2 linked regions of the Homo sapiens genome follow. The protein of the gene in region 2 purifies or fractionates together with the protein of the main gene of each other region. This does not show direct contact. Each region holds a gene or a part of one and is shown on either strand. Other genes may lie near its edges.

Region 1 (3,500 bases), on a different chromosome or scaffold from region 2:
TGTGGCATATTTTATTTAGCCATTTCTGCTGTTTCCCTGTCTTTTGTGATTATATGAACAATGCTGCAGATAAACTTGTCTGCACATCACTCTTTCCAGGCACGGTGTCTGTCTGTACAGCAGATTCTTGGATGGGGAAGTGCTGGGTCAGGGTTGTTGACATCTGTAGTGTAGATCGAGAGATGTTATCAAGTCCTCTCTCTACAGGTTGTATCTGTTTACATTCAAGTCAGCAGTGCAGGAAGGTGCCTGTGTTCCTTCATCCTCACCAGTCAGGTTTCAAACTCATAAATGTTTCCTAATGTCACTTTTTTCATGTTGGCGGTTGAAAAGTTGTTGAAAAAGTCTTGTTTTGAGGTGAGATTTGACTAGCCTAAAAGCAGATGATTTTTACTAATCTCCTGTCTTGTATAAGAATCATTTGAATTCAGACTCCTGCTAAAATAGGAATTTTTTGATGGGCTGAAGTGTTCCAGATAGTTCCAAATTAACTAGGAGGATGCAGGAAAGGGGCTCCCTGGCTTTCCAGGCACCAGGTTCATCAGGGGTGGCCTCTACTGCTTGGACTGGAGACTGCAGAAAAGACAGGTCGAGTGCACAGAACGTCCTGGGCATCTCCTTTCCTGTCTCAGTACTAGGGTTAGGCCCCACACACTGACATCCTCAAGGCCCTACGGCTCTTCATCAGGACCCTGGAACCCTTGGAATGCCTTCAGCCTGAGACCTTGTGCTGGACTGTAGGACAACACAGTTGTCACAGTAACAGCATCCTACCTCCCTACCATTTCACCCATCCATGTGGACACATCAAGTTAGACCCTCAAGCCCAAATCAGAAATCTAGCACTCGAAATCAGGGTGCAACAAAGGAGGCAGTGCCTCTCTTCATGAACCCCCACATTCAACACCTCACACAGCCTGTTTCCATTCCAGCCCCAGAATCTGGGACGCTCAGTTTGCATCCATCCACTGAGGGTGTGTGGCACTGGTATGAACGTGAAGGGGGCCTCCTGTGGCGTTGCCCACGGTGTGCTGCAAGTGGCTCTCACCCCTAGGATGGACGAGAGGGAGAGGAGCAGTGGGGTCTCTCAATTAGCTGAGATGCGGAGTAGCAGGTAAAGCAGCCAATGCTGCCCCAGCCTAGGAGCAGAGACCCTACAGGGATCCTTCTCCCCACCTACCAGTTTCAGAAGCTGGGGCTCTGCCTTATTGGGACGTGTGTCCCTCAGACTGTCCCATCACCCTTAATGGGCCATTTTAGTCTGGGGGTCCCCTTTTTAAAGGTAGAGACTGTGTCTTATTTACTCAGCCCTGTCATTTACCTTGGGAAAGCAGTCTTAGAATTGGTGCCTACTGATGAATATAGTCCTGACTTGAAGTAATACATTCTGAATCCAGATGTGTTCTTCCTGGCTCACTCTCTTCCCAAGGCCGAGCACTCACAGCGTTCTGGGAACTTCCACGCACACACTCCAGGCCTGCAAATGAGCGAGTGCAGCGTGGCCTGGGCTGGAGAGAGCACCTTGGGTGTTAGGTCTTAGACTCAGCCCTGTGGAAGGTTACATCACATAGTTAACTCCCTGGCAGTCAAGTAGCATTTGCCACATTGCATTTTTATGTCTTTTTGAAGGTTTATCAGATATATGCCAAGAGGGCACCAGAGGAAGTGCATGCCCTCCTAAGGTCCTTCGGCACTGACTACGTAATCCTGGAAGACAGCATCTGCTACGAGCGGAGGCACCGCCGGGGCTGCCGACTCCGGGACCTGCTGGACATTGCCAACGGCCACGTGAGCATGCTGCCTCTCCCTGTGTGGGGGTCTCCTGGAGGGGCGGGACTCTGATTTGAATCCTAAGAATGTGAATCTTTTTATCCTTAATGTCTAGTTGAATTACGCTACGAATCAAGTATTTGCTTTTTCTCTTGCTTCCTACAGAAGCCCTCTCTTGGCACTTTAGTGACTGCCACCGGGGCTGGGCAAGGGAGAGGTGAGAGGGGAGCCCTGGGTCCCCAGTGTCACACCAAACAGAGCAGCTCTGCCTTCAGCTCATTTGTATGATGGGGCTCTGCATAAAATGTATCTGTGAAGGATTTTGCTGCTATAAACAAAACCTCAGCCTTTAAACCCACTGCTCCAACGCTTCGTATTGGCTAGCTGCTGCATGGCAGGGATGGTGGGGCCCTCCTGCCCTCCGGTCTAGGTGGTGGATTCCCCCTACCCCTCCTGCCCTCTCCTACTGAGTGTCCTGTGTCCACTGGTGTGTTTCCACAGGCCGGCTTTCAGAGGCTAAGTTGCACTCCAGAGCAGAAAAGCAGCAAGCCGCTTCTCCCTTCTCCCTTCTGAGGAAAGTGTTCTTGGAGCTATGCCAGGTCTCAGTAGAGCAAACAGATTTTCACCCTTTAGAGGTGTGATGTGTGCTGTAATTAATGGTATGAAAGCCAATAGATATTTGTAAACAAGTTGGACAAAGTGACAAACCTAGCCTAAATTTGAAAAAAAAAAATCTTGACTGTACAGAATTTGAGATTCAGATTTTTGCCCGAGGAGAATCATAGTTCATAACTGTCTTGAGTTCAGAGGTGGTACAGACCAGAGACATCCATTTAAATTTTGATTTGAGCGTGACTTTTTCAGTTATTTATTTATTTATTTATTTATTTTTAGAGACAGGGTCTCACTCTGTCACTCAGACTGGAATGCAGTGGCGTGATCTTGGCTTACTGCAGCCTCAACCTTCCAGGCTCAAGTGATCCTCCCACTTCAGCCTCCCAAGTAGCTGGGACCACAGGCATACATCACCATACCCAGCTAATTTTGTTTATTTTTTGTAAAGATGGAGTCTGGCTATGTTGCCCAGATGAGTCTCAGACTCCTGATCCAAGCGATCCTCCTGCCTCAGCCTCCCAAAGTGCTGGGATTTCAGGCATGAGCCACCACGCCTGGCCTAAATGTGACTTTTTCTGATGAGTTAGAGAGCTTTCTCTGATCACTGTAGTTCTCTGTATTTCATTTCTATGAGAGAGACAGTATAGTATGTTCCTGAGAGCAAGCAGACCTGAGTTCTAGTTCTGGCTTTCCCGTTAATGGGATCATCGTGTGACGCTGCACTCTCCTTCTCAGCCTTGGTCTGCACTTCTGAAGGGGGAAAAGGATGGCCCTGATGATCTCCAGGTGCCCATGGACATTGAAATAATATAATTTAATTTCACTCACATACCATTCTTAAACCCAATACCCATTCCTGCTCCTACTGTCTTTTGTAAATAGAATTTTCCCCCCAAATTGTATTTGGGTTTGTTTTGGTTTTAGATGATGGATGGCCCAGGAGAGAATGATCCTGATTTGAAACCTGCAGACCACCCTCGCTTCTGTGAAGAGATCAAAAGAAACCTGCCTCCCTACGTGGCCTACTTCACCAGAGTGTTCCAGAACAAAACCTTCCACGTTTACAAGCTGTCCAGAAACAAGTAGCGCAGATTTCTGCCCAGTGTCTATTTTTG
Region 2 (3,326 bases):
ACCTCTCAGGGCAGCCCATTCTCTCCAAATTTCTGGACGGCAGCTCAGGCCCCTGGATGCAGCCATGACTGCCATAGCACCAGAATCGTTCTTCCAGGCTGGGCTGTGCCCCTGCCCCCATGCCAAGGGTGCTTTCGTATAAATTTTGGTGCTTCTGCTGCCTAGGCTGCAGTAAGGCACTGGTGAGGGGTGCACTTGGGGAAGGGTTGTCATCAGGCTGTGTCGGGAAGGTCTATGGGTACTGAACTGGGAAGATTCAAGACTGCCACTTCACAGACTTGCTGAAGGACCATCTGCTCAGAGGAGTCCCTGCCTTCCTCTGGCCACCACTTTTCCCTCTGCGAAGGGGAGAGGATGAGTTGAGTGACTCTGATGACCCCCGCCAACGTTCTGGATGATCCCCTTTTCCTCTGCCCTGCCCTGCCCTCCCCTTTCTCTCCCATGCATTTGGCACTTCCTGCTGCCCCCACCAGGGGTCCACAGAGACACAGGACAGGCTGTGGCTTTGACTTGCTTTATTGAGCCTGTGTGGGAGCAGGGAGCAAGCTTTGGCCAGAGCCAAGGGTGCAGAGGGGAGAGCTGGGCTGGCGCTGCTCATGGAGTCGTAGGAGACAGAAGGTGGCATTATAAGTCCAGCGGGCTGAGCTCCCTGTGAGGACAGGGCAGAACATGGCAGTGTAGGGGGTAGGCCTCGTGCCCTCAGGAGGCCTCAGGCTGGCCCTGGGCTCCTGTTCTCCCTCTTCCACCCCCCACTACACCTTTCCAAGCCCTGATTCAGTCCCACCACCCCCATTTCAGCTCCAGGGAGCTGGACAGACAGGGCAGGGAGTCAAACTCACCTGGGGACAGCAGCATGCGGGGACCCCCACTCCGAGAAGGCCAGCGTGTCCTCTTTGTGTCTTTTCCCATACCTGGGAGGGAAGAGGCAGCAGGGGCAAGCACTGTGCCCAGGTGCCAGCCCACCTGTTTCATATCTGCCTGTAGGCACCATCTTGCCCAGGGCACATTGGTCTAGGCCTGTTGAGCACAGATGCCCTGTTTTCCCAAGAGCAGGCCTGGAAGGGGCTGGGGCTGGGGCTGGGGATAGGGTGTGGCCAGGAATGTGGAGTGGGCCCAGGGTCCCAGGGGCTGGGATCTCTCTCCCCAACTGTGGCACACACCTAGGCCTGGTCAGCATGTTGATGTATCTACGGAGATCAGCTGCATACTGGGCCATCTGCTCTGGTGTGGCATTGTCCCCTGGGTACACTGGCTCCAGTGGGGCTCCCTGGGCACCCAGCAGTGGCTGTAGTAACAGAGCCACGCAGGTGGACAGGAGCAGCAGGGAGAGGCAGAGGCGTGCGGCAGCCATCTGAGGAGCAAGCAGAGGGGAGGTGGAGAGCCCGGGCTGCAGATTTTCCCGTGCCCAGGAAGCAGGGCCCAACTATCCAGCCCCTTAGCCCATCATCCATTTCTCCAAGCCTGGGGACAAGGGGGCAGAGCAAAGGGCCACTCCAAGCTGGCCACTCCACCTCCTAGACACTGCTCTGAAGGCACGGACAGCCTGTCCTGTGAGCAGCCCAGCAAGCCAGGGCCTCGCAAGTTAGAAAAGTATAGCAGAGAAAATGGGGATGTGAGTCCTGGAGACACGGGACTCATGACATCCAGGGCCTCATGGCTCCCAGGAGGCAGCAGCTAGTGGGAATAAGGGCATGCCAGGTCACCCACAGGGTGGGGGACACAGAATGAACTCGGGAAGCCAAGGACAGAAATCCATGGCCTTGTGGGTCTGGCCCTCCACCCTGCGATAGAGACACAGATATCGGTCCTGGAGAAGACGCTACTGTCCATGTCGTCCTGCACAGACCAGCAAAGGCACTCACACAGGGACCCCAGTCACTCACAAGGTCACAGTCACACATTCCAGTTCACAGCCATGCACACGAGTGTGCACACACACGTGCAGTCAGCAGACGGCTCTTCTAGCGTGACAGGTCTGTCCAGATGCAGAAAGCAAGACCCAAGCAGGACCTTAGGCCTCCCAAGGCCCCTGGCCCTGCAAAGCACCACCTCCTCTCCATCCCAGGCCCCAGCCTGGGGGAGGCCCCCAGAGCCCCAGGCAGGCTGAGCCCACTTACCCGGAGTCCAGAGTAAATGGGCACTAGACCAAGCGAGCACCTGCCTCAGGCCGGATGGGCCCCTGCCCTCGGCTGGGCCGCTTTATAGTCCTCAGCCCCCCAGAGTCCCCGCCTCCTGTCAGCCTCTCTCACTCCGAAGCCCTCACCCCTCCTCTCACTGTCTCCTCATACTGGCAACGCCAGTACTGAGGCCAGAGACGGGAGGGGGACAGGGCAGTTCTGTGGGTGCCAGACCAGCAGCATAACAGATAAAACTGGACCACAGTAAAAGTCTCCTGTGGGCCCCCATCACTGACACCCCTTCCCTTTGGGCACCAGAGCAGGCTTGGTTCAAGAAAGATGGGGTTCTGGGACTCGAGAGTGACTGAAAGGTTTTGGTCACAGGCCTTGGAACTAGCTCTCCTGCCTCCCAAAGATCAACCCAAATCATCCAACGGATTCTCTTGGGGCAGAAGATTGAGGCTGCAGCTGGAAGACTGAGGCTACAGCCAGAGCCTCCAGGCTGAAGAATGGAAACTCAGGCCATCCTCTGCAGCTTGCAACTAGAACAAGGTGGGAAGAGGGAAGGGGCCTCAGGTCCTCAGGCAAGGTGGAAAGGAGTGGGGTGCCAGGCTTGGAGAAACCCATTTGGTGGGTGCATAGGATGCAGAATGAGAACTCATGTGCCTGGGTTCAGGGGAAATGTTGAGGGGGGTGCCGGTTTCCAGTATCCATTTCCCTCCCCATCTCAGAGCCCCCATTCCAGGGAAGTGCTAAAAACCAGCTTCATTTGTAAAGCCTCACATTTTCCAAAGTGCTGCCAGCTCAGTCACCTCACTAAATCCCCACAACAACCCATTTTACAGATTCAGGATCTGAAATCTGCTCAGAGATGTCAAATCACTGGCCCCAAACCCCACAGCCAGTCAGACCCCAAAATTTAACTCCAAACCTGGACTGTTTTTTTTCCTAAGTGGGGCCGTCAAAGTATTGTTATAATTTCCCACTTTTTGGCTGAGAAACCTGAGGCTCACAGAGGTAAAGACGCTTGCTCAAGATCTCATAGCTACCGAGGTTCCGAATTCTGGCTTAGATTCTCAACCCCACTAATCCATCCCCACCAGAAGCCCCTGAGTCTCCCCTGCCCAGCGTCTCTTCCCAACCCCCAGTCTCCCTCCCCTGCTTAGGCCAAGGAGTGGTAACTGGCTGTGTCTGAATGACACGGTGACA

What was found.
Region 1: the proteins of PPY (region 2) and DPY19L3 purify together in Homo sapiens (affinity purification with mass spectrometry; one large-scale study listed by BioGRID and IntAct). This does not show direct contact.

What each region holds. Positions count from the first base shown.
Region 1 is NC_000019.10:32,478,770-32,482,269, forward strand, and holds part of DPY19L3 (protein C-mannosyl-transferase DPY19L3), read left to right. Parts: intron 1-1,629; coding exon 1,630-1,788; intron 1,789-3,309; coding exon 3,310-3,471; 3' UTR 3,472-3,500. UniProt on the Homo sapiens protein: C-mannosyltransferase that mediates C-mannosylation of tryptophan residues on target proteins.
Region 2 is NC_000017.11:43,940,304-43,943,629, forward strand, and holds PPY (pancreatic polypeptide prohormone isoform 1 preproprotein), read right to left. Parts: upstream 2,174-3,326; 5' UTR 2,118-2,173; intron 1,972-2,117; exon of another isoform or gene 1,902-1,971; coding exon of another isoform or gene 1,884-1,901; intron 1,352-1,883; coding exon 1,161-1,351; intron 912-1,160; coding exon 840-911; intron 650-839; coding exon 625-649; 3' UTR 501-624; downstream 1-500.